Linked DNA regions of Homo sapiens: region 2 is linked to region 1. Evidence: fine-mapped QTL for protein levels in blood plasma. A gene starts in region 1. The other region holds a variant in brackets. All regions are shown on one strand. Distances are between the middles of the regions.

Region 1 (5,024 bases):
TTAATGTAGCTGAAAAACTCCTGTGCCTAGTGATCAGAACATCAACTCAATGCATTACTCACATGTTTGTGGTGATGCTGGTATAAACAAAACTACTGCACTGCCAGTATTGCACGTGGAATACATACAGTAAGAACTCAGCTAAAACTGAGCTGCTTTTGGTTCTTGGCTGCAAAGTGCAACAGCTGGATGACCTGGGGCTCCTTACTTGCCAAATCTGATCCTCTTTCCACAGAATCTACTAGGATATAGTAGCATAGTCTTATATGAGTATAGCATTTTCTATTTTTCGAATATGTTCCCATACATTATTTGATCCATACAATAAACAACACTTTTGTTATTTCATCCAAAAACTCTTTATTGGCCCAGACGATATTCCCAGCCAAAGCTAAAAGTCTGGTGCATGTTAGAAGCTCTTCTTTGCTGGAAGACGCTGCTGGTGGAGGGGACAGTAGCCGATGTAAGCAGAACTCTCTGCCCCCCTCCTCCCATGCACACAAGCAATCTGGAGATGCAGTGAACACCTTGACCTGAGTTTCAGAAAGAGGAAAGCCCACAGGATGTGTCCAGGCAGACAAAAGGGCTCACCCCTTCTCTAGAATTCTATCAAAAACCAAGGGCGTCAGGCAAGAGGTCTCAGAGCAGGTCCCGAAGTACCTAAAAGGCTATTCATCTTTTCCTTCCCTTTCTAGTAGTTATTTTTCTCATTCTCTCTCCTCCCCCTTTTAAAAGCTGGTTTTTCTTCTACTTTTCTCATCTCTGAATATTTCTCCTTTTCTCTCCCAAGTCCCTGAAGTCTTCCCCAACACCCTAGCCCCCATCTTCTAGCACAGGTCATCTTCCTGCTGTGGGCAGGGACCTGACACTGGAGAAACCCACCATCTACACAGCTGACTTACTACATGTCAAAGACAGTTCTAAAGGTTCTATGTGTACGAATTCACTAACTCATCACAACAGCTTTATCAGACAGACACTTCTTAGGTCGGTTCTCACAGATGAGGACACCGAGGCACAGAGTCACCTAGGCTGGGAGGTTCAGTCACTAGCCCAAGCTCACACATCCGTTGAGTGGCAGTGCAGGATTTGAACCAAGAAGTCCGGCCATGCGGGCCCTGGCCTGAATCCCTGTACTACAGCAGCCGTCTGATGAAACAAAGGCTGGGGGACTCTCCCCTTCCACTGCAAAAGGTTGATCTCTCTCCAGCTGGAGCAAGGGGCGCTGGAAGGATGCAATGACCCCAAAGGCAAACTGTGCCTCTTTCCTCTAACATTCCTCCGAAAAGTTGCGAAAGAGGTAGTCTCAGTAAGGGGTTAAGAACCGTAAAACCAGATTTACATGACTTGTGTACTGCATTTAGCATCAAAGCGCTGCACTCTGCCTTTCAGCAAAAGAAGTCTCCACCGCCCCCGCTTCCCTGTAAAAGAGGGAGGGCTGAATAACTGCAAGCCTAATCCGCAAACCCCAAGCTCCAGCCGCAGCCTCCGCATCTGGAAGGAAAAAGCGGCGGCAGGCGAGCCAGGGCAAGGGCTGGGCCAGGGCCGGGGCCGGGACCAGGGCCGGCCGCAGTGCCCGGCTCTGTGGCTCTGAACGCGGTTCTGGCCGCAAGAGTCGTCCAGCCCACGCTCCTCCCTTCCCCCTCCCTAAATCCCACCTCGAGTCCCGCGCCCTTAGAGGAAGTGGGTGGCTCTGCCCGGTCGCCAGCAGGGGATCGGCCCCTTCTCCCCACCGTGCCCCCGACTCGAGTTCTTCTGGGCACTGCCATCCTCTCGGTGCGTGCCCGTCTTCCTGCTGAAACGGACCCCAGTGGCTCCCGGGCCTCCCGGGCGCTCTTCCTTAGCCCCGCCAGCTTGAGGGCCGCGTCCAGAGAGCGGGGAGCTCCTCTCGGGGCGCCGATCAGGTCCCCGCGCCGCAGCCGCCGCCTCCGGCGTCTCCCAGGCTCGGCCTCTGCCGAGCCCGCTGCGGTCCACGTGGCTTGGCAGAGCTAAATTCGGCTTGCAGGAAGCCCGGAGCCAAGGGAAAGCCGAGCCAAGTTGGGGTGGGCGGGGCCGAACGGAGGCGCAGAGTCGGGAGGGGCGGGCACTGGGCGGAGGAAGGGGAGGGCCGCGCGCAGGGGAGGCGGTGGCTGGGCTCTGGCGCGCCCTGGCACCCGGCCCCGGCCGGCCAGGGAAGGCGGCCCCTCCTCGGTCGCCCCGCCTTTCACTCCCGTTACACCCGGGGGAAGGTGTTCCCGAGCCCTCTCCCACCCTCATCCCGCCTCCTCGCTTCCTCGGCTCCAGCCTCCGCCGGCGGAGCCCACTATGCCAGACAGTTTCGACACTTTGCAAAGACAAAGAGCCCTAGACCGGAGGGAGGAGGAGGAGGAAGAAGAGCGGAGAGAGAAGGAAGAGGCGATGTGAGCTGGGAAGGGGGCAAGTGTCCGGGACACCCACACCCCTGTATTCTCCTCCGAACCCCTTCATGCCCAAATCCCGGAAACTCCAGCGTGTCTCCAGCCGTGGTGAGTGCGCGCGCGGAGGCGAACCCTGCTCGGGGTGCGCGGGGGCTGCGTCCGCCTGAGTTGGGGCTCGGGCAGTTTCCTGTGGATTCTCGGAGTGGAAGGTTGATTGTCTGGACCCGGGAACTGAAGGGGTGGGGAGGGGACTAGGAGGGTGTGACAGTGGAGCTGGGACTGAAGACCCCGGGATTCTAGTGGAAGACATTCGAAGGGAGACCCCTTCCTTGGCAGCGGCGACCACCCAGGGCTTTGGGAGAGGAAGAAGGTCGGGGTGGAGGTTCGGGCTTAGGGGTCTTCGGCCGACACTGGAGGAGCTGCCTGGAGCTCTGTGGGGAACCTACGCCAAGTCCCGGGCAGCGGTTCCCGAAAGCAGCCCCAGTGACATTGCACCCGGCGCCGGGCTGGGATCTCCTCCGCTGGGGCCGCCCGTGGGAGGAGACCTCGCTGGGTGGCCGGGCTCAGGCGCTCTCGAGCGGATTTGGGGTCACAGGCTGGGACACCGCGGAGGCCGCCAGTGTTCTGGACGAGCGGCCGTGGGACAGTATCCGGATCGAGTCCCCCAATCCGCTGCAAGCAGGCGCAGATCCGGGAGGTGGCTATCGGCCCCGGGGACGCCGTCAGAGCGCGCTGCTCCGGATCTGGGGGTGAAGTTGACACCCGGGACAAGAGAGCTGAACGCGGCGTGGCGGACAGTGGGGGACGCGGGTGGGCCAAGGAGAGCACGGCCGGAGTCGTGTTAGTGGCAACTCGAAACTCTGAATCCGCCCCAACCCCGTGAGGCGTCGCAGCTCCCAAGAAATAATCTGACAAAAGTTAGCAACTTGCCTGTGTCTCTCGTGTGTGTGACCTGCGTGGGGGCAGGGCCACCCCTTCTGGGAGCGCACGGGGACGGACAGCGGTGACCCTGGGGCGAGGCGCTCTGGTGAGGGTACAGTTAGTTTGGAATCGGGACGGTGGCGCAACTTTCCGCTCCTCCTTTCTCTGCGCGAGTGTTTAAGCGTGACCTTGCGGGAGGAAGCGCGGCTGAACTTGAGATGGGGGTTGAGCTTGCGCCCCGGCTTGGCACAGAGACGTCGGAGCGCGCATTAGCCTGGCCTTGCAGCCGGGTCTCCCAGGAAGCGTGTGGGGATCGTCTGGCTCTGCTCGTCAGCTGGAGCCCTGACTCGCTCCTCCCTCCTACGCTAGGGTCCTCGGCGGCCGTACCATGCGCGGGGCTCGGTGGTGTGTTGGGCGAGGGGACACGTGCGCACCCAGAAGCGCGCAAGGGGGTGGGGGTTGGGCAGGTCACTGCGTCTCGCGGGCTGGGCGAGTCCCGCAGAGGGAGTCAGCCGTGACCCTGAGGGCAGTGACTGGCTCGCCGCGTCCCTGCATCAGGCATTCGCCCGGCTTTCTCGTGATTGTTTCCGGGCACCCCTGGCCTCTCCCGACTTCTCCCCCTCGCGGGTCCCCAAGCCCCGCAAGTTTGCGACGAGCTGGTTCTCCAGGGAGACAGCGAGCGCCCACCCCCGCTCTGCGGCTGGGTGTGTGTGGTGAGAGGAAGAGACGGGAGGAGGAGGCGAGGCCGACTCGCCAACGAGGAAAACGGGGTGAGAGGGGAGCCGGGTTTTCCAATAGTCGCCAGGGCGCCTGGCACGTCGTAGGTGCTAACGCAGTGTTCATTGACAAGGCCCCAAGGTGGAAGGTGCTGGCAGGGGCCCGGACGCCCCCTTCTTCCCTTCCAGTCTCTAAAATGGAGTTCAAATGTATCGACCAAGCCCTTTAGGCTTCTAGACGTGCCTGGAGCACCTACTACGTGCGGGGGCTCTACTCCTGGCCTGTTCGTAGAAGCTGCGGGCGGAGCCTCCTGATTTTCTTTACCCCGCGCTGCCCAAGCGCCCAGAGGCTTCGAAAAGGCAAGGTGCACTGCCCCCTGCCGGCTGCTGTGGAAACTGCCGCTTGTCTCTGCGGTGGGGAAGGGGCGCCCAGTGCGGGGGTCCCTCAGTGCCTTCCCGCACCTCCCCTTCCTGCCCCAAACATTAGGACCCCTGCCGGCTGTTTTCTGAAATCCCATGGTTGGCTGAAATGACTGACTAGAGTTCACCACTCCGTGCCCCTCAGCCTCTGCCAATATCTGGGTACAGCGTGGGGCCTCTTCTAGTCTCCCGTCTCTCTGTCTCTGTCTCTCTTTGGTCGCCAGACTTAACCTCTCGGCGTCTCAGTTTCTATATCTGCAAAATGAGGCCAATAATACATTCTCCAAAATACGTTCTGCATAATTGCGAGTGGCGATAATACATATAATTAAGTGAATGTGTGTATGTATAGGTAGTTCATACTCTACATGTGTGTATGTGTATACCTTGACTTCAGGTCTAGGGAAAAAAGTTCCATCGTACACTTTTTGCTAAATAAAGAATGAATAGAGGGCTCCTTCTCCTCTTGCCTTTTCAAAATCCCACAAACCCTGAAGTTTGCTTTCCCTGCATTTTTCTGGGCCGGCATTTGCTGTTTAGAGTCTGATTGGACAAGGCCAGGACCTGGGCT
Region 2 (5,508 bases), 81 kb after region 1:
TTACAGCTGGAATTCAGATGGCGGTCTCTAGCCAGTGCTGGGCACATTCTGCCATCGCCGTCCCTAGACCTCCTGCCCTTCCAGTCTTCGTTTCTCTCCAAGACCCAAGCAGTACAGCCAGCCTTGGCAAGGCCCACCTCTTATCACTGCATTGTGGGAGGAGATAAAATGAGACTTGTGTGTTTTAAAGTTGAGCAGAACAAGATGTTTTTAAAATGCTGTGTTCCCTATGTGGGAGGCCTTCTAATGATCAGCTGGGGACAGTGCGTCCAGTCCTCCCACCCCTGGGAGGTCCCGGAAAGGACTGCAGTGTGGGATGGGAGGCACACTCCCAGTGTTGGATGCCTACCTGGTGGCCAGCTCAGACAGAGCTGGGACAGAGCTGTCTCTAGCACCTCTGGCCATGAGGGTGTTTGGCCATTCCCAGCGGTCATTCGGCGTAGCTCAGTTTATCTCTCCTGCCAGAGTCGCCTCCTTATTGGACGGAGGGTGAGGAGCACTCGTGATCACTTTGTGGGGAGAGTGGGCAGAGTAGGGCTGAGTGGAGGTGAACTCCCCCTGCCGCATGGACGCTCCCCGAGGTGGGGTATGGGCGCCATCCAGAGAGACCAGCTGAGGCCGAAAGGTAGATTCTTAGCATGAAGAGCTGGGCCTCTGGAGCCGGGCTGTTTGGATCACCTTTTATCTTATTTTTTTGAGACAGAGTTTTGCTCTGTCACCCAGGCTGGAGTGCAGTGGTGCGATCTCAGCTCACTACAACCTCCACCTCCCAGGTTCAAGCAATTCTCATGCCTCAGCCTCCCCAGTATCTGGGATTACAGGCACATGCCACTACGCCCAGATAATTTTTGTATTTTCAGTAAAGACAGGGTTTCACCATGTTGGCCAGGCTGGTCTCGGAAATCCTGACCTCAAGTGATCCACCTGCTGCAGCCTCCCAAAGTGCTAGGATTACAGGCTTGAGCCACCACGCCTGGCCCCATTTCTTCACTTTGAAAGAGAACATACCACCCCTTGGTAAAGCTGTTGAGGTCAAACAAGCAACCTAAGAGAAGTGCTGACTTGGAGCCTGGCACAGAGTTGGTGCACTTTAGGGACAGGACCCAGTGCTTTCTTCCCCAGCCATCTCCAGGACTCATGAGCTGGGGGTGCACTTGGGGAGACATCAATACTAGTATCTCAGTCTCTCCATGGTCCACGCCTCCTGACCCCCAGGGACAGGCTCTGGGAATGCCTCCTGGTCAGAACTGGCCTCTGTTCTCCCACCTGCTTGCTGGGCCTCTGCTGGTCCAAGCTGCCCAGTGTCCCCTCGTATCGTCCATCCCGAGCCTCACCAGGGCTGCCAGGCCTCAGCTGCTCTGAGCATGCCCTGACCCCGTGGTGCCGATCCTTGCCCATATGCTCCGGCCACCCATGTTTTCGCTCCTCCCACTGGACAGCTTGGCAGCCCCTGGTCAAGAGGGCAAGGTCTCCCTCCTTTCCTGACTGCTGGGCCCTTTCTGATGAGAGCTACTCTTCCTCTCCTCTGGGGCCCAGGTATGGGGGTGGGGCTGAGCCTGGGCCAGGGCAGTTTAATCCTGTGATCCAACTGGACACCGTGACACCCCTCCAACCTTCAGTGTGTAGGGATGGGATGGTTCATGCGAAATGCCTGCTGTCGCCTGACGCTCCCACCCATCCCGGAACCCTGGAGGGTGCTGCATGCCTCGCCATTGTAGTAGCTGGGTTTATAACGTGATCTTAATCCCCATTAGGGACACTGCTAGAGGCTGCCCCTCAGCTCCTTCAGGCACCTCCTGGATGCCCCTGAAAATCAGTAGCATTAAAATATTTCCGTGAAGTCACGGACTAGGGAGAAAGGGGCCTCTTTAAGCCACGTGTCAGACTGTGAATCTCGGCTCCAGAGCGGCCACACCTCCAGCCCTTCCTTTATGCTGAGGGTTTTAGAACCAGCGACAGATGCCTGAGGGCAGGTGTAAGGGGCATTAGGAGCTCTGAATTGTCTCTTCTTTATCAGCCTCCAGCACCACCCAAATGGGGGGAAATCCTTTCTTCTGGGACAGGTGTGAGCCTGGGTGCGCGCATAGTGCAACCCCTGGAATTCCCAGCCACGTTACACGCTTCTAATGTCATTTGGCTATCCTAGGACTCCAAATGTAGCACTCCTCGATCCACACACATAAGAAGATTTGTGGATTTAAATTCTTTTTGTGAGGCTATGAATATGAAAACATATTCGCCTCCTTCTCATGTGACCCTAATCCTGGTTAATCGTGTTTCTCTGGGGCACTTCTCCACACTGCCTACTCTGAGCCACTATTTGTGCTTCAGCAGAATCTTTTTTTTCCCCGACTTCCCCAGCAAAGGAACAAGCAGGAGGCACTAAGGTGCAAAGAGGAAGATTTGCAAGCACATCGAAGGGTTCTCCCAACCTGCTGGCACTGCTGGGCTGTGGGGCAAATGGGCAGGCGCCGATGCAGAAAGGAGCAGGGAAACAGGCTCCAAAGGAAAC[G/A]GACTTCCCAAGTCATGCTCATGGAGACCGGGCCACTCTCTAGACTCCCACAGGGTGTCCTGTGCACCCCTCTCCAGTCCAGCCACGATGTGCCAGTTGCAATCACTACTGTCTGCTGCTCACAAGCCAGCCGGGCTCCCCTTTGCCTTCAGTCCCCAAGTCCACGTTCCTCAGGACTTCCACGATCCAGCTCCACCCACAGCAGCCCCTCTGAAGGGCGCCCTGTTTTCTGTAACATACCAGCGTCTCCATCATCACCACCATGTGCTTTTTTGGGCACAGGCCTGGTTTACCCTCCCCCTCTGCCCTCCTCCATCAGTGCTATGCCCCCTGTCTCCATGGCCACCTGCCTTACACAGCCTTCCCTCTCCCTTTGGTTGTCATTCACCTGCCACTTGTGGATCACTAAGGCCCTTGGCATCATGTCTTGGGAGGCACTGGTTCCTCCTGAGCAGATTTATGCGTGTGAACTGCCCTGGGCTAGATCCTGGAGCCGGCCTAGTGTGCGGCTTCGCTATCTAGCAGTGAAGATACGCATGCCGCCAGCTGTGTTCTTGAAGCATCGCAGGCATGCTTGGGTACCTGGGTGAGGTACGGCAGTGGAGCATGGAAGAGCAGGCTCAGGAATCGGCCCTCACCCCTTCCTAGCCATGTGACCTGGAGTAAGCCACTGATACCCAAGGGCCTCAGCATCCCCTTCTGTAAAATGGGATTATGGTGTCACCTCCCTCATAGGACCTGGAACTGCACTTTAGCTAGTCCCTAAAATACTGCGTAGTCTCTCAAAGCCCAACTTCCTTCTCTGCCCAAAGAGCAAATGCCTGCCCGAAGAGCCCCTGGGGACTTTCGCCAGGCATCCACACACAAGAAATGTATTAGCTATGGATGGGTCAGGCATGCACAGATAAGTTGGGGAGGGAGTGAGTTGGAGAGAAGGAGGGGCAGACCAGAGGCCACTAGATCTAGTTAGAGATATTCCATGGGCTTTTGTCTGCAGGCTTATCAAACAATGAGGATTCTTTGATATTTAAGCCCGGCAGGAGTCAGAGAACAACAGGAGAGGACCCAGCAGATCAAACTCCAAGAGGGGCCCAGGAGTGGGCGGTGGTCAAGCCACAGGCGCTGATTGGAGCAGCCATGGGCGGGCTAAGGGGACCTTGCCCTCTGGCTCTACTGGTGTTGACTACATTTCTATGGGAGGGACTGATGCTGTCATCAGGGAGCTTGGGGGACAGGCTTCTTGGAGTGTCCCCCTGGTGGGACCTGGAATGTGTTGAACTTGGCTGAGTGGTGCAAGGGATCCCCTGGTGCCATCCCTGCCAAAGACCCTATCAGTGTCATGAGCCTGAGGATGAAATCTCCCGATGGGTGAGTGCCCCAGCAGCAGTTGGAGCAGAGTTTGGGCAGATTCTAGCGAGAGCAGCTACCCAAGGTGGAGGGGAGGCCAGGGCTCAGGGCATCCAGCTGACCCACGTGCTTCTTGCAAATCCTCTGAGGTGGCCAGCGCCTCAGAGGGGTGTCCGGGGAGGGGCGGGAGGCATGGCTTTCTGTGGGGCACAGCTCCTGGGGCACTCATTGCTTAGACCACATTGTCAGCTGTGCCCCTTGGAGTTAGGTCTGCGGGGTCACCTGGACTGGTCATGGTGCTGGCAGGACACAAATGGTGCATTCAAAGTGGGCAGTGGAGGGGAGCTGAGTTGAAAGGTCATTCACAAGGTCATAGTGTGGTGTAGGAAACAGCAAGTGTGGTGCAGTCCCTGGGGCTGGAAATGGTGGGACTGTTTCCAACCCTAGGGCTGAAGGGACAAGAGGACATAGACTTACTGAGACCCCCAGGACACAGCTAATGTGTGGATGGGGTCATTTGACAGGAGCAAGGGACCATCAGCCCTTGGCTGTCCCACAGGGAGGGCGCCAAGGCAGTCACTGCCTGTCCCCAGTTCCCTCTCTCCCTCTGGCCTTCCTCCAGGGCTTCCTGTGGCTCCCAGGAGGTTGTCCAGACTTTAGGGGGGCCACCAGACCTTGCCTGGCCCCCCCTGTCTGCCAGTGCCGCTGCAGTCTTCCAATCCACTTGACTTTGTTTTCTTTCAGTTCGTTGGACTCACCTACTGTCCCCACAGGCCTTCATACCTGTAGCTTCCCCTGCCTGGGAGGCTCTCACACTCCCTGCCCAATCACCTGTCCACCCTGTGGACCCTCAGTCACTACCACTTCCCCCAGACATCAGCCAGTCCCTCTTACGCCCTCTGCTCGTGGCACTGAAGGCTGCCAGTCAGGGCTCTCCAGGGGAGCAGAGCCTATCCCATATTTGTGTATGCATATTAAGAGATTCAACTTTCGGAACTGGTTCAGGCAGTTGTGGAGGCTGCCAGGTTCAAAACCTGGTGGGCAGGCCAGAGGGCTGAAATCTCAGGCAGGACTTGACTTCTCTGTTACAATCTTAAGGCAGAATTTCTTCTTTTCCAGGGAACCTCAGTTTTTGCCCTTAAGGCCTTCAACCTATTGGATGAGGCCCACCTGCATTCATCTCCTTTACTTAAAGTTAACTGATTGGAGAGCTTAACCACATCTGCATGCTACCTTCCCTGAAATACCTAGACGAGTGTCTGACCAAACTACTGGACTCCATGGCCTAGCCAAGCTGGCTCATTACATTTATTTATTTACTTAGAGATAAGTCTCGCTCCCCCAGGCTGGAGTATGATCATAGCTCATTGCAGCCTTGAATTCCTGGACTCAAGTGATCCTCCTGCCTCAGCCTCCACATAGCTGGGATGACAGGGGCAAGCCACATGCCTGCTGATACATTAAATCTAACCATCACAGCTGGTCTTTTGTGTGATTCCTTAATAATCTCAGCCTCTGTCCCACCCTGTGATGTTGCTTTCAGTGAGCAAGGACGAAGATCATTCTACTTTCTCTCTCCTTTTTTTTTTTTTCGACAGAGTCTCGCTCTGTTGCCCAGGCTAGAATGCAGTGGTGCAATCTCGGCTCAC

Evidence for each region. PIP is the posterior inclusion probability: the model's chance that the variant is causal. Protein levels are from the aptamer-based SomaScan assay of Sun 2018.
Region 2: its variant is fine-mapped to the plasma level of the ST3GAL1 protein (Sun 2018, PIP 0.95).

What each region holds. Positions count from the first base shown.
Region 1 is chr8:133,569,173-133,574,196 of GRCh38, reverse strand. ST3GAL1 (ST3 beta-galactoside alpha-2,3-sialyltransferase 1) reads left to right here and starts at 2,310. Exons shown (of 10, transcript NM_173344.3): 1 at 2,310-2,504. ST3GAL1-DT (ST3GAL1 divergent transcript) reads right to left here and starts at 3,625. Exons shown (of 2, transcript NR_186509.1): 1 at 3,327-3,625; 2 at 341-3,139. RefSeq lists silencers at 1,561-1,620, 1,811-2,300 and enhancers at 4,091-4,310, 3,670-4,523, 4,481-4,550.
Region 2 is chr8:133,487,910-133,493,417 of GRCh38, reverse strand. The region is part of intron 3 of ST3GAL1 (ST3 beta-galactoside alpha-2,3-sialyltransferase 1); the gene reads left to right. Among named protein-coding and RNA genes, the nearest start is that of ST3GAL1-DT, 80 kb to the left of the region's middle. RefSeq lists enhancers at 2,131-2,676, 4,154-4,937. The variant G/A (reference allele first, on the strand shown) is at 2,513.